Regions from separate parts of the Homo sapiens genome. Here region 1 is linked to region 2. The links come from fine-mapping of genetic effects on gene expression. Tissue or cell type: prefrontal cortex. Region 2 holds a variant in brackets; the other region holds the start of a gene. All regions are shown on one strand. Distances are between the middles of the regions.

The links.
Region 1: LINC02668 starts here. The variant in region 2 is fine-mapped to the expression of LINC02668 in prefrontal cortex (BrainSeq, PIP 0.95).

What each region holds. Positions count from the first base shown.
Region 1 is chr10:3,250,229-3,266,854 of GRCh38, forward strand. LINC02668 (long intergenic non-protein coding RNA 2668) reads right to left here and starts at 7,291. Exons shown (of 3, transcript NR_187504.1): 1 at 6,916-7,291; 2 at 6,232-6,329. It overlaps LOC105376353 (mucin-5AC-like), which reads left to right. Exons shown (of 3, transcript NR_164119.1): 3 at 1,415-3,126. RefSeq lists a silencer at 12,620-12,785.
Region 2 is chr10:3,231,505-3,248,130 of GRCh38, forward strand. LINC02668 (long intergenic non-protein coding RNA 2668) reads right to left here. Exons shown (of 3, transcript NR_187504.1): 3 at 760-1,078. Among named protein-coding and RNA genes, the nearest start is that of LINC02668, 18 kb to the right of the region's middle. RefSeq lists an enhancer at 5,305-5,804. The variant A/C (reference allele first, on the strand shown) is at 9,010.

The DNA of each region.
Region 1 (16,626 bases), 19 kb after region 2:
AGGGCTTTTATCCCACCTTTGGCTGGAGCCTGGTGTGCCCCCCAGGGTGATGGGCTTGTCCACAAATCTCTGGTCTTACTCATTTTCCTCTCGTGGCTAAAGGCTCAAACATCACACACGGAGGCAACAGACACAAGGAAGACAGTATCGACCAGCATTTGTGAACATATGTGTCTAAGAAATAATAATCACAGAGCTTCGTGTTAAGTCCATACTTTCCGCAGAGCTGCAAAATTTACTAAGTGTTTTTGCCTTATTTGATTCTCACAAAAATCCTATGAGAAGAGCAGGCAGACACCCCCGTTTATAAATGAGGAAATGAGCTGGACACAGTGGCTCACTCCTGTGATCCCAGCACTTTGGGAGGCCGAGGCAGGTGGATCACCTGAGGTCAGGAGTTTGAGACCAGCCTGGCCAACATGGCAAAACCCTATCTCTACTAAAAATACAAAAGTTAGCTGGACGTGGTGGCACGTGCCTGTAGTTCCAGCTACTTGGGAGGCTGAGGCAGGAGAATCAGTTGAACCCAGGAGGCGGAGATTGCAGTGAGCCGAGATTGTGCTACTGCACTCCAGCCTGGGTGACGAGAGCGAAAACTCCGTCTCAAAAAACAAATAATAATAATAATAATAAATGAGGAAACAGTTGCTCAGCACTGTTGGGGCATGGCCAAGAGCACACAGAGATGGAGCTGGGCTTGTTTGGAGGTTTCTGGTGATAAGTCCCAGCTCTTGTACCACCCCATCCCTACAGGACTCCCAGGTTTTCTGAACGGTATAAATGATCTCACAGTCAGGAAGCAGGACACCATAGCTCACCTGAGCAACCGGAGGGCAGGCAAGCAGTTAGCCAGTTTGCTGTCACTCTCTTAGCCCTCTGGTTCTGGCCTTTGTGAGTGAATGTGAATAGGAAGAACATGAAAGGAAAATAATCCTAATATCCCATAGTAGTTCCCCATCCAAGCACCCTTTCTCTTCAAACCTCCTAAAGCTTCGACAACCACCTGGTGCTCATGATCTCCTCTCTCATCTCCTCAGAAGACACGGTTCTTGGGTCTTCTCTCTCTTATTCTTCAGAATGAGTCTTCCCTCCAGAAACTCCTCTGAGATTTGGCTGTGGTCTCCCACGCCCTGTCAGGCAGCGACTGCAGGCTTCTGTGGTTCTCGTTTCCAAACCTCAAACCATGAGAGACATGGAGGCTCTTCGAAATGATGGTGACACTGCTCTCCTGGGGAGGGCTGGACATGGATCGTCCTTTCCCAGCTCCGCTTAATCTGAAGCAGGAGGATCTGGCTGAGAGCTGGGATGAACTTCAATCTGGTTCTGCCGGATACAAAATCGACTGAGAAATGATGCCACCAACCAAAATGGTTTCTGAAGTTTGGGAATGTAAACATTTTTTTCCTTCTTTTAGAGATTTTCAGATAATGGAGTCTGGTCCCTCTGTCCATGGGCCATCAGCACCTGCAGTTCACACCACACTTTCCAGGGAAGAAGGCATCTACAGCACACCACCCACTGCAGGAACAGTGCAGATTCCCACATCTACAGCACAGCACCCACTGCAGGAACAGCACAGTTTCCCACATCTACAGTGCAGCACCCACTGCAGGAAGAGCGCAGATTCCCACATCTACAGTGCAGCACCCACTGCAGGAACAGCGCAGATTCCCACATCTACAGCTCAGCACCCACTGCAGGAAGAGCGCAGATTCCCACATCTACAGAACAGCACACACTGCAGGAACAGTGCAGATTCCCACATCTACAGCTCAGCACCCACTGCAGGAACAGCGCAGATTCCCTCATCTACAGCACGGCACCCACTGCAGGAACAGCACAGATTCCCACATCTACAGTACGGCACCCACTGCAGGAACAGCGCAGATTCCCACATCTACAGCACAGCACCCACTGCAGGAACAGCACAGATTCCCACATCTACAGTACGGCACCCACTGCAGGAACAGTGCAGATTCCCACATCTACAGTACGGCACCCACTGCAGGAACAGCGCAGATTCCCTCATCTACAGCACAGCACCCACTGAGGGACAGTGCAGATTCCCACATCTACAGCACAGCACCCACTGCAGGAACAGCACAGATTCCCACATCTACAGTACGGCACCCACTGCAGGAACAGTACAGATTCCCACATCTACAGTACGGCACCCACTGCAGGAACAGCGCAGATTCCCTCATCTACAGCACAGCACCCACTGAGGGACAGTGCAGATTCCCACATCTACAGCACAGCACCCACTGCAGGAACAGCACAGATTCCCACATCTACAGTACGGCACCCACTGCAGGAACAGTGCAGATTCCCACATCTACAGTACGGCACCCACTGCAGGAACAGCGCAGATTCCCTCATCTACAGCACAGCACCCACTGAGGGACAGTGCAGATTCCCACATCTACAGTGCAGCACCCACTGCAGGAACAGTGCAGATTCCCACATCTACAGCACAGCACACACTGCAGGAACAGTGCAGTTTCCCTTGCGTCGCCCAGCATATGCAATCCCCACTGCACGGAAGTCACCTGCACAACGCTGGAGTTGCCAACGGTTTGTGTTTCTAAGTTCCACTTGGGAGTTAGATCTCATCTTTAATAATAATAGTTAAATCCTTGTTTCGTTCAAGTTTAAATGTGTATAAACTCTGAAATTCTATTTTTACAGATAGCTACAAAAGCTCACAAAATATATCACTTCAAATCCCTACATGTTATGTCTCCTGGGCATACAAACTACATTGATGGTAATGAACTACCAGAGTTTAAATCTTATGTTTCTTCTAAATAATGAACTCCTGTTTGTCAACCTGTATTTTCACTTTTTTCTATACTCCTGTGCAGTGTATTTAAAGAAAGAAATATGGAAAATAGTGAAAGACATAGAAAAGAGTGGTCTATCACCAACCTTCCCCCTTCCTCTCTTGTATATTGGAAATCTCCATCTATGTAGCCCAATTACATCTCTTCATTAGTCTGATTTGGTGTTACTCACTTTTAAAATATAGTTGTTTGCAAAGTCTGAAAATTATCTTGAAAAATGCAAATTTTTTAATGTGTACAATTCTATTTGTGCTAAATAAATTTAGACCTTTCTTATATTCAACATTATTGTTGGAATTCTGTCCTCAAAATCTTCCTTCAAAAACAGTTTTTCTGTGCATTTCCACTGAAAGTACCCTCACCGCTCCTCAGGCTGAGCTCAGTCATTCTGCACTTGGAAATCTTAGCCGATAGATTAAGAGAGGTTTAACCAAAATGTACATATGACTGAACAAATTTTCCCATCACAGTAAGAATGTTTATCAACCTTTATTAAAAATAGTAGTGTCTAAAATAGTGAACCTAAGGTAATGATGCTTTTACATGCACCATGATCTTTCAGCCAAAAAATATTTTCACATGAATGACAACTTGGTTAACAATACCTGTAGTGTATTCTTTTCTTTTAAAGTTATTTTAAGGAGAGTTTGTGATCTGATTTCATATTTGTATCAGTTGATAATTTGGGAAAATCGCTTTAACATTTGGGATTCACCTGATATGGAAGACTTGTAACTTCTCATTTAAGAGTTGCTGGTCTCTTTCCTTATGAACACAACATCATGCTGTAGAGTGAGAGTGAATGGTAGGGGTAAATCCGCCCCTCCACTCATCCACCCACTCATCCAGACATCTACCCACCCATCCACCTATCCATCTATCAATCCGTCCACCCATCTACCCACCTATCCAACCATCCATCTATTCCCCCATCCGCCCCTCCACTCATCCACCCACTCATCCACACACCTACCCACCCATCTACCTATCCATCTATCAATCCATCCACTCATCTACCCACCTATCCAACCATCCACCTATTCCCCCATCCACCCCTCCACTCATCCACCCACTCATCTACACACTTACCCACCCATCCACCTATCCATCTATCAATCCATCCACCCATCTGCGCACCTATCCAACCATCCATCTATTCCCCCATCCGCCCCTCCACTCATCCACCCACTCATCCACACATCTACCCACCCATCCACCTATCCATCTATCATTCCATCCACCCACCTACCCACCTATCCAACCATCCACCTATTCCCCCATCCACCCCTCCACTCATCCACCCACTTATCCACACACCTACCCTCCCATCCACCTATCCATCTATCAATCCATCCCCCCATCTACCCACCTATCCAACCATCCACCTATTCCCCCATCCGCCCCTCCACTCACCCACCCACCCACTCATCCATCTGTTGGTCCATCATCTTCCTATCTATTAATCTACCCATGGACCAAGCTCTTCAACTTTTTTTCAACACTGCAGAGGATTTTGCTTATTTTTTCATTTAAAAATATAACCTAAAAGAGAAATAGCAGAGAAGTGCTGAAGGTTAGAGAGCTAGAATCAGAATCAAAGTCTCTGAGCACAACCAGCCCATTTTTCATCAAGTCTAATAAAATAATTTGAGTACTTCTGCTTTCCTGAAATAAACAAAAATTTGATTTTCAACAAGCTACATGTTGATAATAAAGTTCATAAATCCTCTTCCACATTAAAAGGACACAATTTGAAATGGAGACACAATGGTCAGCTCTTAGCTATCTACATACCGAAGATTTATTTCCAAGACCCGTAAAAGAGCGGCACCCTTTGGCTCTTGCAAACACAGATGTCGATCATCACTACAGCCTGCCTGCTCATTGCTGGTTACACAGAACAATCTCCTCTGCTGTTTTTAGAATCTTGAGCTACTTCTGTTATTTTTTAAAAGAGTCAACAGCTATTTTACAGTTTTGTTTTTTAGGAACAATTTTCATTATATTTTACTCTCACGAACTTTTAAAAAATGATTTTGAAATGTTCCAGTCTGCCTATGGGCTGGCATCAAGAGTCAGCAAAGTCACAGACCTCCCACACTGTGAGATCAGACTAATGCTTTGTGTAATTAGCCAAGGGATACAAAATATTTACAAAAGAGACCTGACTTTGCAGACAGGCCCAGGTGCAGTCTACTTCCATCCAGCTTCTGGTGGTCACGAAATTTAGAGCAGAGACATGCAAAATTGCTGTTTCCCTCATCTGTGAGAGGCGGGGCCCAGCCAAATCTGAGCTCAATGTTTGTGGCAAAAATGACCGGGGGCCAGGAGCAGTGGCTCTAGCCTGTAATCCCAGCACTTTGGGAGGCCAAGGCGGGTGGATCACCTGAGGTCAGGAGTTCACGACCAGCCTGACCAACACAGTAAAACCCCATCTCTACTAAAAATACTAAAATTAGCTGGGCATGATGATGGGCACCTGTAGTCCCAGCTACTCAGGAGGCTGAGGCAGGAGAATCACTTGAACCAGGGAGGCAGAGGTTGCAGTGAGTTGAGATAGCGCCACTGCACTCCAGCCCGGGTGACAGAGTAAGACCCTGTCTCAAAAAAAAAAAAAAATCTCTAGATGTGCAGACCTTACTGAACCATTCAGGAAACAAATACACAATGCATTTGCTTGTATTTAGAGGAAAGCTTATAAACATAATGTTTTCTGTTTTCTTAAGCTGAGACTTGGGTAGGAACACAGTGGGAGGGAGCTGAGTCCACAGCCAGGAGAGCCTGAATCTACTGCTTGCGGCTTTCCAGAGTCCCAGGGAACTGTTTCCTCCAACTTAGCCTCTGGCTTCGAGTTGATGCCCTTTTCAATGAGGTATCCTGAGGAGCAAACCCATTCCTTCAACCTGAAGTGCCTCTCCTTGCTACTAAAATAGACTCAAGTAGATTGCAGTTTATAGCATTTTGTAGGTCTTATTTTAAAGCCCAGTTGACAATGGTTTTAGGAATTAAAACAGATGTGACTGTAGAATTTTGATCCTAAGCATCTACTGTTGGTCCTCCCAGTCTGATACAGCTCTGTCTGTAGACAGTCATCCCGGGTCTAGCCCTCACTTTGAATGACTTGGTTTTATAGATTAGTCCACAGTCTCAGATTTAATTAAGCATACATTTCAAATGAATAGACATACATTTAATGTACACACATACATGCCTTTAATGTTCAGATTTGGACCGGGTGTGGTGGCTCACACCTGTAATCTCAGCACTTTGGGAGGCCAAGGTGGGCAGATTGCTTGAGTCCAGGAGTTTGAGACCAACCAAGGCAATGTAGCAAAAACCCTGTCTCTACTAAAACTACAAAAAAGTAGCTGGGCATTGTGGCACATACCTGTAATCCCAGTTAATCAGGAAGCTGAGGTGGGAGAATCACCTGAGCCAGGGAGGTTGAGGCTGCAGTGAGCTGAGATCACACCATTGCACTCCAGCCTGGGTGAACAGAGCACAACCCCATCTCAAAAAAGGCAAAACAAAACAGAAAACACACAACCCCCCCCAAACACACAATGTTCAGATTTGGTGGAACATACATACATACAGGACATATGAGAAACCTCCAAGCTATGTGGAAATCCACACGTATACTGAGAAACTTTCAAACCAAAGAGGGCAAAGCAAGGGAGGCTGCGGCCTGTGGAGAGACCAGGCCAGGACTGCCAGGCTCCTGGGGCCTTGGAGGCACTCGGGAAGGGTGGGTTTCCTGAGCTTGCTCTCCAGAAAAGCTTTCCTCTTCCTCCCAGCCCAGGTGAAGCAAATCTCTCAAACAGGATGGCCTCAGGGTGAGCAGAGCCACTGGGCCGCAGGGGATCTTTCCTGGACTGTTGGGGGAACTGACAACCTCCTCACGGGCACGATGGGAGTCCCTTCTTTGAAAAGATCCCAGTGATTTGGTTTTTATATCTGATCTCTTTAGAAGCTCTTGCAGCAAAGACTATTTTATTAAACAAACTTTTAATGCTCTTTTCAAAGCCCAGGTTATTCCTTTAGTCTTGTGTGTGTGTAAGGAGTATCTTACCTTTCTCCTCTTCTTCATTTTCTCTTTTATTCCATACACTCTCTTTTTGCAAAGCGGTTTATATATGTCCTTATGCTTTCTGATGATTTTGGGAGGAAGATGAAAATATCCTCCATCAGAATCCAGAAGAGAAAAGGGAAGCAGAGAAGGCTCAGCTGTGGACACTCAGGTCCCCCCAGGGCTGAGGGGAGCTCTCATTCCTGGTCTTCCTCATTCCCCAATTTTTCTAGGCTTCTTGTTACCATGGTTACTCCTTGTCTGGTGGCATGAGGAGATGTCAGAGACCATTTTAGTGTCTATTTTGCCTCATTTTTTATCTTCATGAAGGATGGGTAAAGAAATACTGTCCCGAACTCAACAAAACCTTCTCAGGATCAGGGCTCCACCCTCAGACTTGGAATTCTGTGATGTTAACCCCTTCTGAGAGGTGATGAAATGTGTCCTTTTAAACTGTCTTCTGGAAAGAGATGTAGGAGGGACCGGAGAGACTATCTGCAGCAAGGCTTTTGCCAGAATAATGTTAACATTGAATGTGCACAGGAAGAGACCGGCATGAGTGAAACTGTGACGCAGCTGTCTACTTCCCGGCTGTAAGGTGAAAATGCACCTTCCCACAGGAGGCCCTCCCTGGCCCGGCCTGGACTCACCTCCCAGGCGGCGTCCTTCATGGAGGAGGAGCTGAAGTCTGCGGGGCGGGGGCTTTCATCCTTGTTTACGGGTCTTAATTCGTTCCTCAAGTGCACACTGTTCAAGGAAAGGATGTGTTGCCTCTGCAACCATGGTTTTCTCATTCAACGCCTACCCCAGGACACACCAAGGGAAGGACAGAGCCGAGACCCAGACAGGCTGGTGACAGCAGTGCAGACACATTTCCAGGTGGAGGGTTTGCAGCCTGCTCTAACTTAATGTTCCCGCTCCCACACTCCACTCCCAGTCTGAAATGCATTTCGAGGAGAACAAGTAAAACCTGCCCTCTTAGAGTTCAAAGTTTCCCGGAGACAGCTGAGGCCGATAGCTTATTGTTTAGGTAAGAACAACAGAACAGAGAGGCAGAGGGATTCCCGAGGTTTGCGGAGCGGATCGGTAAGGGTGAGCCCCGAACCTGTCTTCGCTCAGTTCCATAGTCGACAGCCTCCTTACCTACTGCAAGTGTCCAGAAAAACCCGTTTAGAGGACAAGAGGCTCCGGAAAGAAGCCTGCTCAGCTGCGGTTACTAGTCCTGTCATAAGTTATGTGTCTTGAGTGGACCATAAATTTGCACTAAAAAGACTCTCTTTCCTGTACAATCCATGCTTAGCCCTAATTGGCTGTAAAATTCATTCATACCCACCTTGTGTGTCACTCAATTAAAATAACTAGCAACACCACAGGACTCGAGGGCTGCTGGAAAAATGCAGGCACCCAGTGGGCTGGGCCTAAAGATGTACATTTTTCTCCCAGTGATAGCAGCTCTTGGGAAGGAATCGAGGAAAAACCGGTGACGTCTTGTTCTGAGCATCCACATATACACTGGAGGGGTTCTCAGCCTCCAGGCATTTCCGGCATCACAGGGCAGGACATCCTTCAGCTTATCAGAGTCTACCAGTGAGAAATAACACCAACCGTGCAGAGGAGCCGTGGACACCAGCATCCTCATCAGACTATAGTCCTCCCTCTGTCCCTTTCGTTGGTGTGGTCCTCCCAAGTTCTGTTTTAGCTCCTAACTTCTGTAAGCTAGCTCTTCCCGTTCAGTGATTAACGGAGATTCACCCTAAGTCTCCTGGCCATGTTTGCTTTCAGCGATTGTGTTTTTAAAAATGTAACTATAGACCAGCGTGGTGGCTCACGCCTGTAATCACAGCACTTTGGGAGGCCGAGGTGGGCGGATCACAAGGTCAGGAGATCGAGACCATCCTGGCTAACACGGTGAAACCCCGTCTCTACTAAAAAAAAATACAAAAAAATTAGCCGGGAGTGGTGGTGGGTGCCTGTAGTCCCAGCTACTTGGGAGGCTGAGGCAGGAGAATAGCATGAACCCGAGAAGCAGAGCTTGCAGTGAGCCAAGATGGTGCCACTGCACTCGAGCCTGGGCTACAGAATGAGACTCTGTCTCAAAAAAAAAAAAAAAATCGAACTATAGAAGTCTTCCTAGAAAATGGAAAATGACAAGAGAGTGTACTTTATCCTGGTGTGAAGTCCCTAAGATTTTAATGGAGTCCTAGAGACCCCATGTTATCGAGTGCTAGCGAAATGGCTGTGCTCTTAGCCAAGACAAAACGGACCGACTGGATCCCAAGCTATGTAGCTGGGTTAGCAAGAGGCTCAGATAGCGTCCTTCACTGACTGCCTGCAGAATGATGTGATTTTTTAGCAACCAGGTGTCAGAAATCATGGGGGATTCTTACACAAGCGGTGGGTGTGTCCCCTCTCACCCCAGCCCTGGGGTCGCCCAGAGCGGGGAAGCAGGGAGCATTTCCACCTGGGTCTTTCCTCTCTTATTAGGTTTTCAACAGCGTCATCAGCTCTTGGGAGGGGGGAAGAGAGAGCGTGTCCATTTTAGGTCCTTCCAGAAAGACCTGAGTGGCGCTATCGTGCTTCGGCAATGTGTTTCTTTTGACACTTCCTTGCTGTGCCCTGCAAACCTTGAGTGTGTTTTCGGAGATGATTCTTTAGAGACCTTGTCTCTAAAAAAGAGAGAGAAATGAAACCATCCAAGTTCATAATGCTGTGTTGAAGAGAAAATCACGAGGTGCTGTACGGGTGTGTAACAAGTTCTAATCTGTACTGGGATGTCTGAGAAAATGCCATTTAAACAGACACCTGGAGGGAGGGTGGACGGCTGGCCCAGGGGGTCCCAGTAGCTGAAAGCAGTGTAACTACAGGCCTTAAGGAAGGGGCATGGCACACCCAAAAAGCACAACACCCCCACTTTAGGATGGCAACACCACTGCTCCGGGACTTGGCATTTCTGTGACTAAACTCCGGCTCAGCAGAATGCAGTGGAAGGGGTTGAATTTGGAGATGTGGTCTGGGCACAGTGAGGCCTCATGCGCCTGAGAGCAGACTGCAGAGGGCCATGCTTGTGGGAAGTGAGGCAGGCCCCAGGGCACTAGGGGACATGGTCAGCCTTGTCTGCTCCGCCCCCGCGACACTCCCCCTTGAGGAGGAATGGCCGTCAGTGAGAACCGGCTCCTAGTCCTGGTACAGAAATTAACCACGTATGCCGTCTGGGGCCAGGGAAAATCTAACAAAAGCTTACACAGTTCCCTGCACCATGCTAAGTACCTCCTACACAGGATCCTATTTAATTTTCACAACCACTTAGACGAGGCGGTTACTTTTACCATCCCTATTCCCTATTTTCTATAGGAAAGCTGGGTCTGGAGAGCCTGAGACCTCCGGTCTTGTGAGCCCTCCCATTCAGCATGAAGCAGGGCCGGGTCTGGAAGCCAAGTCCACCTCGAACCCCATGCTCTTGGCCAGATGGTTCTTGAGGTCCCTTTTGGCTTGTTTTGGTTCAATTCCAAATTAGAGCCCGCCCCGCTGGTGTCTCTCTTGGTGAGAGTTATTTCAGTGCTGTGGGTGTTTTTCAGGCAGCCTGGTAAAGTGACCTATGTCTGTCTTCCTGGTTCTCCATCCAAACCTAAACAAGGGGACGGAGGTCTCTCCTAAAGATTGGCAGGAAAGCAAAACTCCTCAGAGAGGCCTGAACTCAAAAGTGCTATTCTTTTTAAACAAAGGTTGGACAAACTCACAGTGCACATTTAAAAAGGTTAAATCTGATATAGCCGGAGCAATATTTGTTTAACTACACTAAGTGAAAGATGATTTGGCTGAGGGACCAGGGAGAGACCTTTTATTTGATCTGATTTTACATAAACATTTCTGCACACAGAGGCTCCTGGACCTTATCATAACCATCATTGGATGTCCGCTCAGGGGATCCTTCATCTTCTCTCCAAATGTCATTTCTTAGATGCTGACTCCAGAGCCCCTGGTGATAACTCAAGTTTATTCCTTATCAGATGCACCCAGCTGTAGACACAATACCTGGAGACTGGCTTAGGTAGATTTTTTTTTTTCTCCAACAAAAGTTTGCAGACGGAAAGACGTGTATGAAAATGCTCTGCAGTGGAGGGGCTATCGAGAGATGATTTTTAATCGTCTAAAGCGAAGAGCAGCACTTGGAAGAAGGCGTCTCTCTTGCACATTTCCCTTTGCACTGGCTGCATGGGAAGCCACAGGACTAGTGATGTCGAGAAACTCACCTTCAGCAAGTGTGAAACTCGTATGTGCTCTAAGGGACCTGAGGAAATGAACATTTCTTCAAATAAACCATAACTCAACGGATCAGAATGATCCATTAGCCTGATTTTTGCCTGCTTGTTGCATATTTAGGAAGCAGAGCTCAACCTCAGGGAAAACAGGTCGTGTTAGGGGCTGCTGTAAGAAATCATGTCGAATGTATTTCCCCAGGTTGGTGTTTATGGTGTAGACTCCCGCTCCACATGTAATTTAAAGGTTGATGAGATTTATATTGGGAATGACAAGGCAAGGTACTGGATCATCTGAAATCATTAAAGGGATGTTGGTGTGGGCTCACTGACTTCTGTTTATGGAGACAAGGAATAAGGAAACAAGCTCATATTTTATATAAAGAATTTCACAAGCCAATGGGAACAATTCAGTAATGCTTCTTTAGCCAAGGCGCTATGACTTGAATACCCGGCTCTATTAAGCTTATAAGAAATCAAAGTTCAGGAGAGAAGTTAGAGCTTTGCTGCACCACACAACTCTGGAAGCTCCTGGAATATTTTCTTAGAAGAAGGAGAAGGAAGAGGAGGAAGAGGCAAAGCAAAACTAAAGTACAGTCGGTAGCCTTTGCAGTGCAGGAGCCCACAGTTGTGATGTGCAGATCTGGCTTCTCCAGGGGCGGGGCTCAGGCACTTATGAATGAATTGGCTTAGAAGCCTCTACTGTGAGGTTCTGGGTCTGTTTATCAAACCCATGCCGGAAACGTCGGAGTTGTTAATAGCTTTGGAGTGAGACATACCAGGGTTCAAACCTTAATTACATCAGCTGCTAGCTGGGTAACCTTGGCAAGTTACCTAAACTAAGCTGGGTAACCTTGGCAAGTTGTCTAAATGAAGCTGACCTCTGTCAACCTAAATAACAAAGAAGGAAACTATCTAAAGGACAATGGTGTTTATTCGGGCGTAGGCATTAAGATGGGCATGTGTGTGCCATGGTAAACTAATTGCTTATCCAGAGAAGTAAAAAGAGATAATTTTTTTTAAGAAAATGAGGATTGCAGAATTGTTTTGAGATAATTATCCTGGGCCACAAGGATCAATAACAAGGGTGATGCCTGTCTGAGGCTGGACAGGCAGTTGCTGGCAGATGTCCTGGCAGAAGTGGTTTTTTGTGAAAAGTTGCAATGCCTCACTCATGAGAGCCCTCCCTCCATGGCCTTCCCCAGCGTGTCAGGGTTTTAACACAGGGAACTCCATTTGGATTCTGAAAATTTTCCCTCATGAGGTTGCATGAGGACTAAACGCAACAGTGGGTATGAAGGGCTTGGCATAGTACCTGGCTCGTGTGAATTACTGGTTAGAGAAGAGATGTAGGAAGTCAAATAGGGTAAGTAAAAGAGGACTTGTTGAAGACTACTGGATTCTTTGTAGTATGAATTCTTCTTTCTCCAACTTTGTAGCTTGGGACTTCTGTCTTGGCAAGTACAACACTTTGCAATCCTCCTCACAGCTAGGAAGGGCACAGGACTAAATTCTGACCAATGGACAGGACTGCCTTAAAGGAGAGCGTAAAAGCTGCCCCCTGCTCGTCCTCCTGGCTGCTGTGCGGAAGTGCTGGCTGGCACCTGGGCAGCCATTTTTTACCATGAGGCAGAGCAGTGAGTGAGATGAAATGAAGGAGTCTGGGACCCTGATGCCCGGGAAGCCATCACCCCAGCCCAGCCCTACCACCTCCAGTCTCGTAGCTGTGTGGGGGAGATACCCTTCAATCTCCTATAAGTCATGGATTTTTCCTGTTTGTTACATTCAACCCAGCAAAATTCTAGCTGATATTCAAGATCCCCGAATTAGGTAGTTCAGCTGAGCTCAGGAACTGGAAGAGCTGACGTAAGTGGTGAGGTGGAGGTGGCCTCAGGAAGAGGTGGAGCTGATGATGGACACCCTAGGAGAGGAGACACTGTGAGTTTCTCTTCCTGTCCAGATGAACTCACTCCTGATGCACTGGCCATCTTGTTTTCTGAAAACTTCTTTCTCTTTGGTCCTATTTTAGACTCAGAGCAGTTTGGGAGGCAACTGGTTTTATTTGCACAGTTATCACCTGTTCCAATGAAGAAGAAACACAAAGATGTGCTTCTGTGATTTGAAAGTTTATCCAGGATTCAGGCTTTTTAGGAGTCTATGAGGGTATTGCTTGGCTGAAATTCTCCACATTGCCACTGGTTACTTATTATCGTTTCATCCACATCAGTGCTTCTCAAACTGCTGAGCATTAGTGTCACCTGGGGAGCTTTAAAACATTCTGAAGCCCAGCCCATACCCCAGACCGGTTAGATCACAAGTGGAGAAGCTGGGGCCCCAGCATTGGCAGTTGTTAAAGCTCCCTGGGTGGACCCACCGTGCGGAAGGTGGGAGAAGCAGCAAACGCAATTCTTAGTCTCTAAGTGTGGTCCCCAGGCCGGCAGCAGTGAGAGTTTGTTGGAAACACAGACTCTCAGGAGCTACTGAATCGGAATGTTGTGTCTTCCACAAGCTCCCAGGCCGTGTGCTTCGGTGCCAGGAAGATCAGGCTGCAGGGGGCGTTGCGCTGGTTCCTGGTGAGTGCCATGCCCTTCACGGACTCCCCTAACTCCCCACCTGCCAGCGTTTCTTTCTGTTTGTCTTTCAGGTTGGTTCCTTCACCACATGGATGTTGCTTGGTCCTGCTGGCCATTTAATTCTGCTGCCTTTCAGGGAGCAGAGTGCGACTTTTGCCTTCCTTTTGCCACTTGCCAATCATTTTTTCTTCTTCTCCTTCCTGTTTTGCAAATTGTGGCCACCACACACGACCCAGAAATGACTCCTGGGCAGTGCCACCGCCTCCTCCTGACCCACTCATCTAACAGCTTCCTCTGGCTGCTGGTATTGTTAGGAACAGCCACCCTGGGCCTCCAGCAGGGCCCTCACAAAGTGTTCTGTTTAGGGAATCACTGAACAACAACAGGATATCGTCCTGGCCTTTCTCAGAACCTTCTCTTTGTTTCGTGTTTCAGCCCTTCCTCTACAAACCTGTTCCCAGCAGAGCCAACCCGTAAAGTCAAGTTCTCCACAAAAAGGCAGAGTCAGTTTTCTGATGGAATGTAATTGAAACAGACCTAAGTTAATGACATACAGCATATTTCTTTCGGGCTGTGTTGATACCAGCAGCAATTCCCTGAGCAGAAGGAAGTTCCTACCTGCCACCACAGCCTGCTGCTTGCCGGCCACACGGCTGGCACCATCCCCTCCGCAGGGTCATTCGCAGCTGCCCGTGGTCACACACTCAGCAAAGTCCTGAAAGCCTCAGCGCACTGGGGTCAGCTGGCCATGGGGGTGTGTGGGAGGTGCCACAGCAAGCCCCTCCTGACCCTAGGCGTCCCTCCTTCTGACAGCAGAGGAAAGGAGAGCCTTGGGCTGGTTTCAGGGCTGGGTGCAGCCTGGGCTACACATATTTTTGAGAGGAGATTTGGGGGCACAGCTGGGGACTCCTTAAGCCACCATCTCTCTCCTTTGTGAGCCTGAGTACATGGAAGACCCTACCGACTACAGCTCACCTTTCGGATTAGGGGTTATTTACTTCCAGGTCATTATTTTTAAACTTTTCAAATTAGAATATAATACTTGGTATAGATTTCAAAAATCAAACTTCATAGAATTAAAAGTGAAAAGTCATCATCCATTTCATTCCGTTTCTTGATTTTTTTTTTTTGGTCCCAGTGTAACCATCGCAAGTATTCATTCATGCACTCAACAGTATTTATCAAATTCCTACTGCATGCCATGAACAGCTGTCATTACTGGGGCTGCGGTGAACAAAGAAGTGCCCCTGTGACTCATACCTGAGGGGTGGCAGTGGGGGTGGCCATTGAAGGTAGGCCAGCAAGTCCATGAACATTTCAGGGGTGACAATGTGGGAGGGGTAGCAAATGAAGGGTCAGATGGTCAGACGAGGGCTGCTGCAGAGACGGTAGACCAGATGGCTTCTGAGTTGCCACTGGACACTGTGAGTTGACCTGTGTCCCCATGGAAACACTCATTGCATTCTGTGTGTTTATCTGAGTATAAAGATGCACTTGTCCACCAAGAGATGAATGGATAAACAAAATGTGGTCTATCCATACTATACAATATTATGCAGCCTTAAAGAGGAAGGAAATTCTGGCACATGCTGCCACACGGACGACCTTGGGGACATTTTGCTAAGAGAAACAAGCCAGTCTCAGAAGTGCACTGACTTATGGTTCTAGTTAGAGGAGGTGCTTAGGGCAGTCAAAATCACAGAGACAGAAAGTAGAATGAATGGTGTTGCCAGGGGGAGGGAATGGAGGAATGGGGAGTTTTATTTAGTGGACACAGGGTTTCAGTTTGGGAAGATGCAGAGTTCTGTGGAGGGATGGTAGTCACGGTCGCACAATGTGAATGGATGTCATACCTCTGAATTGTCCACTTAAAAATGGTTAACTTAGCACATCTTATGAAGTACATATTTTACCACAGTAAAAAATTATCAATAAAATATATCTTGAACACTTTTCTCTATTCATACTTTTAATTTAATTTTAATTTTATTTAATTTACTTTTATTTTTCAGACAGGGACTCATTCTTTCACCCAGGATGAAGTGCGGTGGCAGGACCATAGCTCACTGCAGCCTCAATCAACTCCCGGAGCTCAAGCAATCCTCCCACCTCAGCCTCCCAAGTAGCTGGGACCACAGGCATGTGGCACCACACCCAGCTAATATTTTGTATTTTTTGTAGAGATGGAGGCAGCGGGGTGGGTGGGTCTCGCCAGTTGCCCAGGCTGGTTACGAACTCCTGAACTCAAGCAATCTGCCTGTCTTGGTCTCCCAAAGTGCTGAGATTACCGATGTGAGCCACTGTGTCTGGCCACAAGTATTATTACTAATATACCATAATTATTTATGTCTGTATTTCTTTATATCACAGGACTAACACATGTGTATGGGATAATCTTTTAAACCTGATGCTTTTCTGCCCCTCTGTATCTCCTGATTTTTCTCAGTTATGTGACTGTGTTTAAACTTCCAACACTTATATCATTTAGAAGTTTCTCTGATGAAAAGCCTCCCATGATTCCTAGTCTCATGCCCTGGAAAAAACACTTTTAACAATTTCTGTGTCTGCTTCTCGATTGCCCAGCCTTACTTGGTGTCTGCTGATGCTCGTTTAGAAGAATTAATAATCCAGTAGACTTACCTACCAGGTGCTAAGCAAACCTCTTGTTCTTTTGTTGTTGTTGTATAGATGAAGGCTTCCTATGTTGCCCAGGCTGGTCTCAAACGTCTGGCCTCCCGTCCTTATGCGCCAGGACAACAGGACTGAGCCACCGCACCATCCAAGTCTCTTGCTTTTTAATAGCTTTCTTATTTTTCTTTTATTCATCCAGGGGTTACTTTGTGAATTTAAATAATTCACTTAAAATAACATTTTGAAATTTATCA
Region 2 (16,626 bases):
TGGTAAAGAAGGATTCAGAGTGCCTGGATTTGGTATAGAAGGATTCAGGGCTCCTGAGTTTGGTATAGAGGAGGCATGGCTCCTGGATTTGGTATAGAGGGATTCAGGGCTCCTGGATTTGGTATAGAGGATTCAGGGCTCCTGGGTTTGGTATAGAGGGATTCAGGGTTCCTGGATTTGGTATAGAGGGATTCAGGGTTCCTGGATTTGGTATAGAGGGATTCAGGGCTCCTGGGTTTGGTATAGAGGGATTCAGGGCTCCTGGGTTTGATAGAGGATTCAGGGCTCCTGGATTTGGTATGCAGGGATTCAGGGCTCCTGGATTTGGTATAGAGGATTCAGGGCTCCTGGATTTTGTGTAGAGGGATTCAGGGCTCCTGGATTTCGTATAGAGGGATTCAGGGCTCCTGGATTTGGTGTAGAGGGATTCAGGGCTCCTGGGTTTGGTATAGAGGATGCAGCGCTCCTGGATTTGGTATCAAATTTCCTGGATTTGGTATCAAATTTCCTGTCTCTTAGACTCTCTTTTTCTTTTTCCATTCTTCCAGCTTGCCTGGCTGCCTCTTCCCTGTATCTTACTCCAACAGGGGTCAGTGCTGGCCATGGTTATGTGGAGAGTTTCAAAAGCAGACATTGTCTCACAGATGACCTCTCTTTCTTACCCTAGAAGGACTCCGTGTAACATGAGGCATTCCTTTTAACATGTGGCATTCCTTTTAACACATGTTGAGGTGGTCAAAGAATACTTTTTGAAATAACTCATTTAATACAATATTTTATTTGGCAGACGCATGTTGATATTTCTCCTAGGAAACAAAAATGTGGACATAGGTTATTATTTCTCACTGTGGTTTTTAGCAGGCATAAGAATTGGGCATCTCAGAATAGAATGGAATACAGGAGCTTGATGAAATTTTAGAGACGGTCTAGCTCAGATGCTCTGCAGGAGACGAAACTGAGACCCAGAGAGCTGGGGTCGCACGTCCAGTCCTCGTGGTGCCCACGGAGGCCCAGAGTGTGGGAATCCTCCTGCAGCAATTCCGGCTCGTGGTCTAGTGATGTTCCCATCTCCCAGCTCCTACGGGAGGAAGTAAAATGAGGTGTTCATGAATTTCCCTTTTCTCCTGTGAATATGCTCTCAGGCTACAAGATTCTCTTGGTTTTCTAAAGGTTATGTTGATAAGTGTCTCTTTTTCAACATTTTAATTTGCATGTATATATGTGTATATATATGAATCTTAATCCATGGCTAGGCTCCTAAAGACAGCAGTTTTCTGTCAACAATATTTAAATAAACTCAAGCAGCTTCTACTCTCCCTCTATATGACAGAAATGCATTAAAAATCTTTGTATTATGGCATTTTGCATTCATATATTCAGTAGCAATAACAATTTTCCTTCACAGACACAGAAGGTTTATGCTTTCTCTACCAAAATTTTCAGACTTTGCCGGGTAGGACTTCATAATCATAATGATAAAACAATCTCCCTGCTGTAGTCCATGGCACAAATCCTCCTGGAGACAGTTTGTGAGCCTTGAGGAGGGACTCTCATTCCAACAAATAGTGACAATTTTTGCTAAATAAAATATTGCCTTTATTTCATTGAGCTGGGAATGCCCTAAGCATGAGATGTTGCTGTCTTTCCTCATCAGGCACCTGGAGCCCCACTGATGGCTGTCTGTGTGCCTTTCTGTGGCCCAGTGACGACTGGCCCTTAGGGTTGGGGCCCAATGGTTTTCCTCCCATGGGCTCACCACAGTGTCAGGCAGCTGAGGACTTTGCTAACATGTCCTGTCCTCGTTCACAGAGTCCTTGGCTCCGTCATTGTGTCTGTCTAGGACGTGCATGGATGGCTTAGGAAGAGAAGGCAGACAATGGACAGAACCAGACAAGGGGCCAAGCACAGGGCTGGAAAGTCACTCAGACAGATGAGCCTGTACCTGGGTCTCCTGATGTGTGTGCTGGAGGGTCTGGGAACCGAGGCTGACATGCCTGGTGTCAGGTTAATTTCCTTCTGTGTTTAATATCCTACCCCAAAATACATCTTTCAAGACTTTATTATTATTATCATTCTAGGACTTTTGTTGATGGGACATCTCTGTATGATCTTATGTGGCTCATTAAGGGATTCCTATTTATGACTTTAGCCACAGGGCAGGGGTATCACCTTCCTTTTCATTCTCTGATTACTCACTCACCCACTGAGAACTGCTGTGATTACATCCGGTGCCCCATAGGAGGTCAGGGCCACAGTTAAGGGATGGGGGAAGTAAAGTCAGGGGAAGAGGAAAAAGACGGATCCGTAAGACATGGGACGTGGCATAGAATTGTTTAGGAAATCCCAGTCTTCCTGAAAACTTAGGTTGTTTTTAATGACACATTTATTGGAGACAAGCCGAGTGAACTGAAGGAACCTCTTTTCTTCTGCCTCCATTTTTTTTTTTTTTTTTTGAGATGGAGTCTTGCTCTGTCTCCAGGCTGGAGCACAGTGGTGCGATCTCGGCTCACTGCAACCACCAACTCCCTGGTTCAAGCGATTCTCCTGCCTCAGCCCCCAGAGTAGCTGGGATTACAGGCACCTGCCACCACGCCTGGCTAATTTCTGTATTTTTAGTAGAGACTAGGTTTCATCATGTTGGCCAGGCTGGTCTCAAACTCCTGACCTTGTGATCTACCTGCCTTGGCCTCCCAAAGTGCTGGGATTACAGCTGTGATCTTCCTCCAATTTTTGTGGCTACTGCACAAATATGGATTTAGATGACAAATATCATGTATTAAAAAATCATGAGACTTGGTCCTTCCAGGAGTTTAAAAAGATGCCGTTTTGAATAAGACTCGAAGGCACAGCTGGGGGTTGAGATGAGGTCACCATGCTGTTGCCAAAGTGATGTCTGAAGTTTTAAAACGGCACATCAGTGATGGAGCTGCCAGACTTAGCAAATAAAAATACAGGTTACCCAGTTAAATGTGAATCTCAGATAAATCACACATGATTTTTTTTGTGCTATAAGTATATCCCATGCAATATTTGGGATATACTTATACTAAAATATTATTTATTATTTATCTAAAATTCAATGTAACTGGGCTCTTGGCAATCCTACCGATGACTATTTTATATAAGCAGAAACACAAACCATGAAACGTGTTTAGAGTAACGTCTTACCCAGAGCCAGGTCGTCTGAGCCCCAGTCCCTAGGAGGTGCCTCTGCTCTGTCGCTCTTCACCGGCAGGTCACCCCTGGACCCGTTGGCTTTGCTGGCTTAGGGGTGGGGTGTGTGTGGGTCAGGAGGCAGGAGGCTGGAGTATGAAAAGGAGGAAGCCGAAGGTATTAAGCGGAAGGGAAAGGAGAACAGGACCGGGATCTTTTGCATCCCGTCTGGATGATCACGCTTGGGGGATTGATTCATGGATGGATTGATTCATAGGATCGTTTATGTATTCAGGGGTGGTTGAGGACCAGGTTCTGTGCCGACCGTCGAGTGGTGGAAGCCGATGTTGCATAGGGAGTTACAACCCAGTGTGGGCGTCTCCTGGAGGAGGTTCAGGGGCCACTGAGCATGTTGCAGTGGTGTCACGCATGCCAGCTGGGGACCTGGCACCGAGTGGAGAACTGGTGGATGATGAGGACAGTGAGGGGCAGAGGGTGCCGCGGCTCTCCTAAAACATCCACGTGAATGCAAAGAAAATCACGCCAAGTTGGTCGGGCACGGTGGCTCACGCCCGTAATCCCAGCACTTTGGGAGGCCGAGGCAGGTGGATCACAAGGTCAGGAGTTCGAGACCATCCTGGCTAACACAGTGAAACCCCATCTCTATTAAAAATACAAAAAAATTAGCCGGACGTGGTGGCGGGCACCTGTAGTCCCAGCTACTTGGGAGGCTGAGACAGGAGAATGTCGTGAACCTGGGAGGTGGGGGTTGCAGTGAGCCAAGACCACGCCATTGCACTCCAGCCTGGGCGACAGAGTGAAAAAAAAAAAAAGAAAAAAAATCACGCCAAGTTAATATCGAGATTAGACACAATGGCCCGGTGCCGTGCTGAGCCATATTGGAGACATAGGATAAAAAAAAAATCCAGTATCAGCAATTCTGTCTTTAAAATTGTGATATTTTGTCTGTCATGGGTTTTTGTACTAACTTTGGTTTTTAAAAACATATTGCATTAAAATGTAGTTGGCCTTTACCTTCATGACTGAGATTTTGTGGCCAGGGAGGCGGCTTGCTGGCCTCCCCACACTCGAGCTCCTGTGTGAATAGAGTCTGTGGGTTGTCTTTGGGGTTCGCCTGACTCCCCAGACACTCTCCTGCTTCTCCATCTCTCAATGGTGGCAGCAGCAGGCTCTGAGGTAGATGCAGACGCCAGAGGTTTTATTTGCACAGGGCCAGGGACACGGCAGATAGGAAGTGAGCAGAAGTCTCGTGGCCTCTTTATATATGATATTTATCATCTAAATCCATATCTGCACGGTAGCAACAAAAATTTGGGGAAGGGGAAAAGAAGTTTCTTCAGTTAATTTGACTTGTCCCTAAGAAGGGAGTCATCAAAAGACAATATATATTTTCAGGAAGATGGCAGTTTCCTAAACAATCCCGTGCCACGTCCTGTGTCTAATGGATCCGTCTTTTTCCTCTTTCCCTGACTTCACCTCCCCGTCCCTTCACTGTGGGCCCCACGTCCTGTGAGCACGGGGTGGGCTCAGCACAGTTCTCGGTGGGTGAGTGAGTGATCGGAGAATGAAAAGGAACGCGATATCCCTGTCCTGCGGCTTAAGTGGTGAATGGGAATCCCTTAATGGGCCATAGAAGATCGTAAACGGATGCCCCATTTGTGACTCATAACTCCTCTAAATCCACCACTAGATGAGAGGCACAGAGCCTCGTCCTCCACAGCCGTGTGATGAAAGAATGAATGATCCCATGAGACCCTATAGCTTTGGACTGTCCCCATTCCAAGACTATCAAAAGTTTTAGAACAATCAACTCATTCATTCATTTGTTCAACAATTATTTGCTGGTTCCTGGCATTGGCGGGTTCCAATCTGGCTCTGGGACCATCTCCTCCTTCCTGACCCCATCACTTTCCCTTCCAGAGGCAGAGGCCGTTCTCCGTCCCCTTCCTTTGTCCTGGTATTATCCCAGCCAGGGCACTCGGGCCCTGTTTCTTCCTTCCTTCCCTTCCAGGCCTTGGCTGGCGGAGCAGGAGAGCAACAGGCCTTTGGCAATGGCAGGTTGACCTGCTGCTCTGCCTCGAGCGTGTGCTGGTGTCCAGGCCCAGCAAGGCCACCCTCCAGGCCTGTCACCCGGCTCCTGCGTGGGAGTTGCCTGACCAAGCTGGACGGCAGCAGGTGCAAGTCCGGCAGAGATAGGGTTATTGCATTTGCTCCCCATCAGCCCTGGCTGCAACACACTCCTGCGGTAGCAGGGTCACTCGCGTGTTCTTCAATTGTTGGCATGGATTCGGGCGCCTGGAGGTGGATGGAGTGGGGGCTACAGCTGTGCAGCCTTGGCAAAGAGGAGAGACTCAGACCCTCAAACCCACAGCCACCCTTTGTTCAAAGTGGGGAGAAGAAAACACAAGGACTTGAGTGTTGATTTGGGGTTGGATTTTCCAAGAAGGAGTCAGGTTCATTCCAAGTGAAGAATTTAAAAAGGGGCTGGAAGAGGGCTTTCTCCCTCTGGAGATAGGGAAAAACATGTTCTCTGATTCAAAGGGCAGCGCTGCTGTGCACAGCTCATGCATTATTCATGAGCCATCCCACTTCTAGGTCTGACGGACAGTTATTTATAGCATATCATCCTTTTCACAAAATGACACTACCCAGGCTGCAGGCTGAAGTACATTTAAGGTAAGTGTCCTGAACTGGGTGGAAATCCTATTGATGTTTCAGAATATATATAATGTGCGCTTGAAAATGACTATGTATAACTTGTATTTTTGCCCCATTTCTCCATAGTGAAACAGGTTTTCGACAGCCAGACCCAGGGGTGAGCTATGGCTACGAATGGAACGGCCTGACATCTATCTATATCTATTTTAAAGCAGCAGGAGAAACACCTCAAGCCCGTCCTGGCACTGTGGGTGGCTGTGTGATGGGAGGCTGAGGAGACTTCGTTTTCCTGTTGGTGTAGTGTCTGGATTTTCTCTGCATTTCCAGCCTATTCACAAACCAGTGATGACAAACCAGGCAGGTGCGGCCAGCCAGTGCGGGTCTGCCCAGGCCACTGGCCCCCGCCTCCTGGACATTTTAGCCGGGCGTTAGTCACTCCACTGCGCGCAGGTGCACTTCTGTGCAATGATGGCTATGGCCTCCATCCAGAGGTGGCAGAAGTCTGCGCAGAGCAGGTGACGCAGGCCTCAGAGGGGACCCAGGGACCAGGTGGGGGCAGAACCAGATCCAGCCAGCTGCGTCTCTGCCCGAGCGATAATTTTTAGGAGGGGGCATTGTGGCAACAAGTGGATTCTATGCATACAATACAGATAACGCTTTTTCAGAAAGCATTAAATAGCAACATTTTCTGGGCAGACAGCCTTCCACCAAGTAGGGAAGTCATACTCAGCTTTTAAAATGGAAAACAGCTATTGCATAATTATCATTTTAATCAGAGAATTCAGGGGAAATGGAAGAATCCAATTCACATCGATAGCCTTAGAATAGGCTAGGTCATCTCTTTCCCGGATTGTTCAATGAGACTGATTTCAAGACATGGGCCAGCCGGGCATTCCTCCCGGTACCCTGCTGCAACCTGCTCACCCTGTCTGGGTTCACTGGTGTCCTGGCAACAGCGTGGGTGCCGGGGCAGGCATCTGGAGATGGAGTCGGCAGAGAGCATGGCTCTGGGCTCCGCAGACCCGGCAGGAGCCCCGGCTGCAGAGAAGGAGATGTGGGGGAAAAAGCCTGTGCTAGTCTGGAAGTGGAGTCTGGAGCTTAGATTAGAAAGTGTGTTGACAGAAGGAATTCCCCACCGCAGTCCCGTTCCTGGCTGACAGTTCTCCCAGCAGCAGGATCTGTGGGAGCGGGACTCCAGTGCACTCGGGTCCTCGGTGTCTGTCCTTCCAGGGGTATCCAGGTCTCAGAGCACAGGTGCACACGGGTACAGTGGCTCTGTGACACAAGAGGAGGGTCACTCACAGTGGTCCCACGCACGGCGCCGACCACACAGACCCCAGAGGACACGTGGTGCTCTGGGCCTGTGACCAGCACAGCAGTTGGAGCAGGTGTGTGTCTGAGCTGGAGCTGGGCGGCCCTGCCCTGTGGCAGCGGGAATAAGAGGAGACAAGGGGCGGGCAGGTAATCACCGAGGAGCTCTTCCCAAGAACAGAGACGTTGCTGTTAGAATACAAAGCTGGTCCAGGAAGGGCACAGAGGGAATCGCGTCTCTGCTTGGCCACCCTGCCATCCCTTTGTCCCTCTCTTACACAAACATCGTCCATCCCCCCGGGTGCTTCAGACTGGACCTGGTGCCCAGGGCCCCTGACCACAAACCCTAAACACACCCGGGGCTCCTCCAGCGCCGAGTCCCCCACGCTTCCTCACCCCGCTCAACACACATCTTCAGTCTTGCACTTTTCTCTCTCTTTTTTTTTTTTTTTAAATTTTAGATGAAGGGAAAATGGTTTCACTCTATAAACCACTTCTTGTTTAGGGATATGTCAAAAACACAGTTAAAATTCATTCTCTTCTTTACAGTGAAAATTCCAGAACAGATGGAACACATCTTTTCCCACTTCAGAGCGCGAGGGGGGACGAGGAGAAGCATCCTCTGTGTCTCAGGAAGCTGCGTCATTAGTTCGGGGTCAGGATAAAGGGGAAGGATGAACGCATTTGTGTGTCAGGCTGCAGGGCACCCGCACGTGGAGAGAGTCTGCAGGCCCTCAGTCAATCACACCGATGTGAAAGCGAGGATGGAAGGGGAGGGAAATTACATTTACCTGTGTCCTGGCTGCAGCCACGATGGGTGCTGGGGAAAGTCAGGAGGACTCGGGATGAGAAAGAGGCAGTAACTCCCGGTGTGTTCTGTCTGGGGGACCCAAGAATGTCTGCACCATCACTTCTCGGTTCTCGCTGGATGTAGCGTGGGGCTCACTGGGGTCACACACCCTACGGGATTTTGAAGTTTCAAAGACCTCTGGGTTTTATTTGTCTCCTGACCTGCCCGTGTTCATCCAGGTGTTAATCTGCCACCATGCCCTGCCTTGCAGCGCAGGGAAGACCGCAAGGCCGCAGCACCCTACGCCCCGGACGACCCGCCGCACAGGTGTGAGGCCATCGCACCGCGAGGGAACGGTCACTAGGTGTCGCCGTCTTCCTCGGAATGGAAGCCACGTTTCTCCTGCACCGTTGAAATGGACTGGAACAAAATTTTCTAGACTTCAAGGAAACCATCCTTTCTAATAACAATGAGATGGTAATTAGTAGGGGAAGTGGCATAAAATTATTTCACCATTTAGTGAAACCATGATTCTAAACTACAGAAAAAACTGTCTTTTTTAAAGCTCATTCAGCCGGGTGCAAACCGCCTTGCTGGCGGGCGGCACCTGAAGGTGACCTGGCCTTGTCCCCCCCTCCATCCCCCCAGTTTCCTCTCTGTGGTGAACGTGGTTGGGGTTCACGTCTCACCCCCCATGCAGACCCCAGCAGATCCTGAGGGCAGCGTGTGGACCATGTCCGAAGGGTCCAGAGGAAGATCCCACATGTGTAGAATACAGACCCATGGCCCCTGGGAGAGTGAAGGACACGCAGATGATTGGCAGCGGCCACTTCTCACACAAGCAACCCCTCTCTGTTTTACTGATGAGAAAACAGAGGCTTAGAGCGATTGTGTAACTTTCCCACAGCCAAGTTCAAACTCAAAGTGGGTTTCAAAATTTAGGTTTGTCCGGCTCCGAGACCCGTGTTCTCTGCAGGGCACTTAGAGGACTCCTGTGCTGACCTCTCAGGCAGCCTTCTACGAAGGGACGCGGAGAATAACAGGAAGGATTTCCATTTCCTTTTTCTAGGAAAAAA[A/C]CAAAAGGCAAGAGGTAGGAATTCAGAGCTAGAGTCGCTTTACAATTCGGTTCCATTGTCGAGACGGAGAGATTCCACGACCATGACAGAAAGTGAGACTATTTAGGATTTGCCAAATAGGATGTTTTCTGAACCAATCAACATAGAACGGAAATGAGTTGGGACAAATGGCAGTGCAGTGAGAGGAAAGGTGAGTCTTCCAGCAGCCCTGCCTCCCTCATCCTGGGAGGAAACGTCCGCAGAAGCCGGGCTCCCCTGTGCCTTCCCCAGCCCTGCCTCCAGGAAGCTCTCTGAGCATTTCCTACAGACCCTGCCCCATGCTCTTCTCCTGCCGGTTTTCTCCACGTGGTTTTCTCCATGTGCAGAAACGATGATTCGGGTCTGGCACAGTGGTTCATGCCTGTAATCCCAGCACTTTGGGAGGCCAAGGCAGGTGGATCACCTGAGGTCGAGAGTTCGAGACCAGCCTGACCAACATGGAGAAACCCGTCTCTACTAAAAATACAAAATTAGCCGGGCGTGGTGGTGCATGCCTGTAATCCCAGCTACTTGGGAGGCTTGAGGCAGGAGAATCGCTTGAACCCGGGAGGCAGAGGTTGTGGTGAGCTGAGATGGCACCACTGCACTCCAGCCTGAATAACAAGAGAGAAACTCTGTCTCAAGAAAAAAAAGATGATTCGGAGCTGCCTGGAACATGGAACAGCCCAGCGAGTCGCTGGCTGCAGTTCTCAGACCCAGGCTCTGCCGATCTCATCCCAGGCTGGAAGAGTTGCCACCAAGGCGTGTGGGTGCCATTTGCTGCAAAAGTTCTTATGGAGAACCATGACACATAACCGTGCCAGCTTCTCATGCCGGGAGACCGCAGCGCCTCTCCACACAAGTGGGGCCTTCCTTCTGCACTTTTATTCTGCAGTTGGGCTCCCGCTCCAGGGGGCTCCGTGTTTCTAAGAACCACAGCCCAGCATCATTAAAGAAGGCATTATTTTGTGTTTAGTAGAGCACTAAATTGGTGAAATATAGTTGTGATTCTGGTAGTGAATATCCCTGTTGCCACGGTAACGATATTATGTCATGGGAGGCTGTCTCGAGTGCTCCTGGGAGCAGCCAGGTCTCCGTGAGCTCCTGTTTACTCTAAAGACTCCGGCAGCCCACATGTGTGCACGCTGAATAAAATCGTGCTGCGGGACCACAGTGCGGGGAGGCACCGACTCTGTCATTCTGTCAACGCACCGCACAGTCACGAACATCAGCATTGACATGAAATGGACGGTTAGGGAGCTGCAAAGGACTCATGCTCCTCTATTGCACGAATTTGTCTTTTCATATTCAAAGTACTTGTAAGAGCTCCAAGTTCCACGTACTCAGCCACTAACCTCAGGCATCTGCACGGGAGACTTGGTACACAGGCTCACATGCATGCACGCACACAGGCACACGTACAAGCGCCCGTGTACACACAACAGTGTACACATGCGACACACATTCACACACATGTGCAGATGCACACACACAGATCAGTGTGAGGAAGAGTCAGGGGTTCATGGAACAGCCCCTGCTCTGCAAGCCATGTCTGGCCGTGTAGGGGAAAGAGACAAAACAACACGCTGGTTACCTTGGAAGAGGAAAGAAAGGGAGAGACCTGCAGGTGTTGGGCGCGACACAACCCAGAGCCACCCTCGTCAAGGGACCCTCTCCCTGCTCGATGCATTCCTCCCACCCGACATTCAGTGAACACAGGGAGGCTTAGTGTGAAGGACACCTGCAGTGTGTGTGTCTGTGTGTGTGAATGTGTGTGTGTCTGTGCACATGTGTGGTGTGTCTGTGTAAGTGTATGTGGTGTGTCACTGTGTGTTCTATGTGTGGTGTGTGTTTATGTGTCTGTGTAATGTGCATGTGTACTGTGTGTGTGGTGTGTCTCTGTGTGTGTGTCTTCGTAGTATATGTATGTGTTGTGTGTTTGTGCATGGTGTGTATGTGTCTGTGTGGTGTGTGTGTGTCTGTGTGTATGTGTCTCTGTGAATGGGTGTGTGTGCATATGTGGTATGTGTGGTGTGTGCAGCAGTGTGTGTGTGTGCACGCATATACACTGTGTGTGGTATGTGTGGTATGAGTGTGTGTGTGAAATGTGTGTGTCTGTGTGGTGTGTGATTGTGTGTGTCTGTGTGAATGTGTGTGTGCATATGTGGTGTGTGTGGTGTGTGAGTCTGTGTGTGTGTGGGGTGTGTATGTGTGGTTTGTGTGTTGTGTATGAGATGGAGAGAGGCAGGCCAAGGCGGGGAGATCGAGGAGGAGGAGGGGCTGGTGGGTCGGTGCTGCCAGCACGATGCTAGGAGTGACCCGGGCGTGTGGGAGGGGTCCTTTGCCACCTGGACCCCATCGCATGCCCTGAATCTCATTTTTGAACCCAAAGCTCAGAACGCTTCCTGGCTGTCTGCCCATCAGTTTCAGCCTTACCCTGAGCAGAAAGAGCTGCCGGGGTGGGGGGTGGGGGCGGGGGGGTTCTGCATTCTAATGGGGCGGGTTCTGCATTCTAATGGGGCGGGTTCTGCATTCTAATGGAGTGGGTACGGGTGACTTCAACAGTGAGTCTCAAGTTATTGTCTCTCTGGGAAAACACGCCCCCGTGACCTTCCCACCAGCACTGGGCACTCCAGGGGGTTTTGGGACAGGGCTTTCTGCAGGGTCTTGAGCAGCTGGCATCTCACCGACAGGTGTCTTCTGGAAACCTTCCGTGAAGACCTTCCCCTGAGGAAGCCAAGTCACCTGAGCTTTCTTCCTCATCGCTAAGTATAAACATCAGTGAAAAATAAGTGAATGTGGTAAGCTTTAAAACGGCAAACAAATGAGCCAGGCGTGCTGGCGCTCCTGTAATCCCAGCTGCTCAGGAGGCTGAGGCGGGGGAATCACTTGAACCTGGGAGGCAGAGGTTGCAGTGAGATCGCACCACTGTACTCCAGCCTGGCGACAGAGTGAGACTCCGTCTCAAAAAATAATAACAATAAATAGCAAACAGCAGAGAGCATCATCTTAAGGTTTTGAAAATACATACGTATTACTATTATGTTTAATACAGTCATACTAGGAGCACAGGTTAAATACTTCTGTGACTTCACAGGTATTCCCTGTCTCCCCTCCCAATGCCATTATGTGAACCAATAAAAGTGCAAATGGTTTCATCCCTGGTGGCCCCAGAGTCTCAAGAAGCTGAAAAAATTCCTAAGTTGCCTACAGGTTACAGTGATTGACGGAGAGAATGGGCATCTTTTAAAGTTAGTAAGCTAAGAAGGAAATATATGAAAATGAAAGTTAGGAAATGAGATAATTTCTTAAGGTCATAGAGTACACCTGGGCCCACTGATAATATTTTGAATGAAAACGGAAACGTACATCCCAATTATCGATGTTTTTGTACACACAATGCCAAACATCTTGATACTTAGACCCATAACACTTTAGCTTCAATGGCTTACGTTTCCCTGGCATGATGGGTGCCAGCCATGGGTCCGTCCCGAAACATGCTCCAGATCTGATGCTGAATGGCACTTTGGGCCCGGGCCACACCCCACCTTGTGTGGATTAAATGTGCTATCCCTTGTTGTTGGTTGTGCAAATTTTCACACTTTTTCATGCGAGACAGCTTTTGGAGTAGGATAAGTTCTGGCCTTTGAAAACGTACAATATCCTTTCTCACAGGTAAAAGCCAGAGGGTGCCCTGAAGCCCCTCTCAGGTTGTAAGGTTGTGGCATCCCCCTTTGGCGAATGAGGGGATCCCAGCCCAAGAAGGAGGGATTCCCAGGAGATCACACAGCTCCTCACCACCCCGCTCTCCTATTTCCTAAGTGTGGTGTGCTGAGGAGTCCACAAAGCTGCCTTGGGGATTTAACAAAAGCCTCTTCAAATAACACACAGGACAGGGCTCCCGGGTTAATCATCTTTCTTTGTCTAAGAAAGAAAGATCTTCCTAGGTTTTATATTCACACATATTTGTTGTGACTTCCTTTTGTGTCCATCAATCAAAGCTGTTCCCTCTCTTGGTTTTGGGTATGTCATTACCTGCAGGGCACTCGGTGGAGGTGAGGTGGTCATTGGCTTCTGTCCTGTTCTTCAGTGGTTTTTACTTAGCGATTACCGGCAATTTCACCATTACTGCAGGGCACAAATTTGTTTATTTTAGCACATTTTCTTCATAGCCTTAATCTGCTGTCAAGTCAATAATGTGCTCCCCAACTTCCATGATAAAATCTTCCCCCAAAAGAATCCCGATGGAGTGCTGGTCTCTAAGGACGTAGAGACACCAGAATGTTTTCTAAACCTTTTTGTCTTGTGTGCTGATGCTCAGAACATGGTCATTCGCAATCACTGAGCTTTGCAAAGCTTTTGCACGAGCTGACCTAATTCTTATCCCTGCTCCTTTGAAGAAGACGGACTTTTAGCTTTGGTAGTGTTGGGTGCTACAGAGCCAGCCTCAGATGTACCAGGTGTTATAGAGCCAGCCTCGGATATACCAGGTGTTCCCATGTTCAACTGGAATGGGTGCTGAAAACCTGTTTATAAACGTGTTCCCCTCCTTGTTTCAGGGGACAGGTGTTCCCATGGGTTGACTGGCTCCTTCAAACCCCAACATTCAGTCTTTAAAGGCACTGTCTATGCCTAAATGCCTTACTCACTAGTAGCAGCCCACTGGGTGATGGGGCTATGCTCCTCCCTCCTCCCGTGGGCATTGGGACTGGGATTCTTAGATTGGAGCAGGGAATTTCTCATCAGTCACTGTGTAATGTGAAAACCAAGGGAAAGCCCAGCGCCTCCCAAACCCTGGAGCCCCAAGTCATGTGAGGAAGCTGAGATCTAATCAGAAGGCACTGGCGAGATTGTGTTAGACAGATGGGGTCACCCAACGTACAGGGTGGCCAAGGCAATGATCAAGGCCAAGGAGAAGGGAGGGACTAAATACCGCAGCACCAGGATTGCTGGGAGCCGGGTGTCCTTCGCCTGCCTGGAGTTGATGCTTGAATGGGGGAAGCTGGGGCCTGGCCCCAGGGATGGCGAGTGTGAGAGGGTCAGCCCCAACATGAGAACCGCGGAGCCTCAAGAGAGGAACTTGGGACATCAGCAAGCCCCGTGCAGCGTGGGTGAGCAGCTTTCTGATTTGCTGGGGCCCTTCTTGTTGCCATGAACAGGAGTCCAGGAGTGACTGCATATGGTGTCCCAAGGAGCCTGGTAAATAAATGTGCGCTGGCTTCCTGGGAGTGAGTTATGAGGAAACGCTAAGGGCAAGAGGAGAAGATGGCTGGACATCCACAGCCCCTTGGTCCCGGGCTCTGACAGCTCCTCAGCATAATGAGTGGAAATGAAGGGCCTGGCCAAGCGAATTGGCCGATTGGCTTTCTTCTATTCTCATTGCTAAATTAATATTGCCGTTAATGTTTGCCAATATTTCAACCTCGGTGGACTGGCATCTAACAGTCTTGAGCTTGCAGAGGCCATTTCTGTGCTGGAGTTTTGGTTTTCGAGGTGCATTCATTCATAAAAGCTGATGTTCCCCAGAAAGTAAGCACTGAGAGCTACTATTTCCTTGAGCATTCATTTTATTTAGGTTCTAGAAATTTACGTGATATCGGATGAAGAGATTCAAATAGTTTGTGAAGGAGTTAGGAATATACAACCCCTTCCTTTTGAAGACATTTATAAACCTATTGAACATATCCTGGAAGCTGGTCTGTGGACAGCCCAGTGCTATACACTGGGGGAGTGAGAGACAGCAAAGCCGTCTCCCTCCTCTGCTGGAGGTTTTACCCTCAGAGGAGAGGCTCACATATTAAAGCCCTAAGACAAGAGAAATTAGGAGTGGCAATGTAATACTGTAAAGTACAATCAGAGCATGATGGAAATAGATAATAGCTTCGTTATTTTTAATGAATGCATTGACTTAAGAATATACAAAGTTTCCTGTGTGACCAGCTGAGTCTCCATGCACAGAGAACAAACCCTAAACAACACCAGTACTTCGTGAGCAGTTGCAGGGATATTCTTTAATGCTCCTCTAACTCACTTAATCTTGATTTGACCTTTCAAATGTAAAAGAGAGTTTTATTGTTCATCTGGATGTCTAGTAAATTCAATAAATAAAGTTCAGAAGACCGATGCCTAGATGAGAAATAGAAGCTGATGACCTTTTTGTTTTGGCCTCAGCCATGGTGACCACACAGGACCGGGGGGTGCTTCTGGCTTTGGCCATCCCAAAGCCTTTGGGTCTGGATGAGCCCCAGGTAACCGAATGATGGACAATCGCTTTTATAAAGTGACAGTTTACTTCTGAGATCGCTGTTATTAAAATGAACACTGGATAGGGCTCTCACGAAAGCTAAAAGCCTTTGTTTGTTCTGGTCTCAGTTCTCAGGGACCTAAACATGACACTGTTCATGTCAACCTCCATGTACTTTGCCCAGTCATAGAAGATGCAAAACATAGCAAATTGTTTTTCTTTTGACTCTTGATCAAAAGGGGGAGCACAGCAGTCAAGAGTTTAGAAAAGTACTCTCATGTTCACACCTGTGTCCTACAGAGTTCTGCGATTTGGCAGGCAGGCTGTGTGAGTGGGCCCCTCTCCTCACTGAAAGACATTCTTGGTCCTCAAAGGTGAGGTCCATGGCTCCAGCCCTGCCTCGCCTCCCCTGGCCTCTATGTCGACTTTCCATTACGGATGGAGAACCGCTTCTGGAGTCAGAGTCTTCGCAGGCAGTAAGGCTCGTGAGAGCCTCAGTGCAAGACGAACCATCTCCATGCGCTGATGTGGTTTTTCTGAAGTAAAATAAGGACTAATTTCCAAACTTCATGCAAACAAGGCAAAGATTTGTCGATGACGGTGGCAGTGAAACTGCGGGATTGTCAACATCAGATAGGGTGGACATGGGGGCCGGGAAAAGCCACGCAGACACTAGCTGTCTCAGGACCCATGTTGTCTGGATTTTAAAGGCCTATTTTTCAGCCTTGCTTGGTTTGAAACAGTTCATTTCTACCTTGAGCCTTTCCAGGGAGTCTAGCGACCAACTGACAACCTCAATAAAGATCCATTCCTGGGTCAGTAGCAATTCAATGATGGGTTGAGCTTCTGAAGTTACCAAAGCTTTCATTTCCTGTCCCTTCCCCACATGAACTAAGTATTCCTGGTCCAGTCAAGATTACACCAGACCGTCATGTCAGGGGCCCAGGACCTTCTTGCTGGTTAATAGGCTACAGTAGCTGCAGCGTCATTCTCTTAGCAGGGTTTTTCAAATTTTGGATTAGGACCCATTTGGCTCATGAAATTAATGTACTGAGCCTCTACAAGCAAGCACTGAGGAAGAAGAAAAGAAGGAAGGAACTGGAAAAAAAAATATTTCAATGCAATGCACATAATGATGCATGGTCTCCTAAACTTTTCCGTGTGTGTGTACGGGCTCGATCATGGTGTAAAAATCTATTAAAAGGCTATCATAGCCACTACTGTACTGCAATATATTCCAAGCAACATAGACAGAGGCTCCCACATCTGGATTTTTTTTTCCTGTAAAAATAAGAAGAGGCCGGGTGTGGTGGCTCACACCTGTAATCACAGTACTTTGGGAGGCTGAGGTGGGT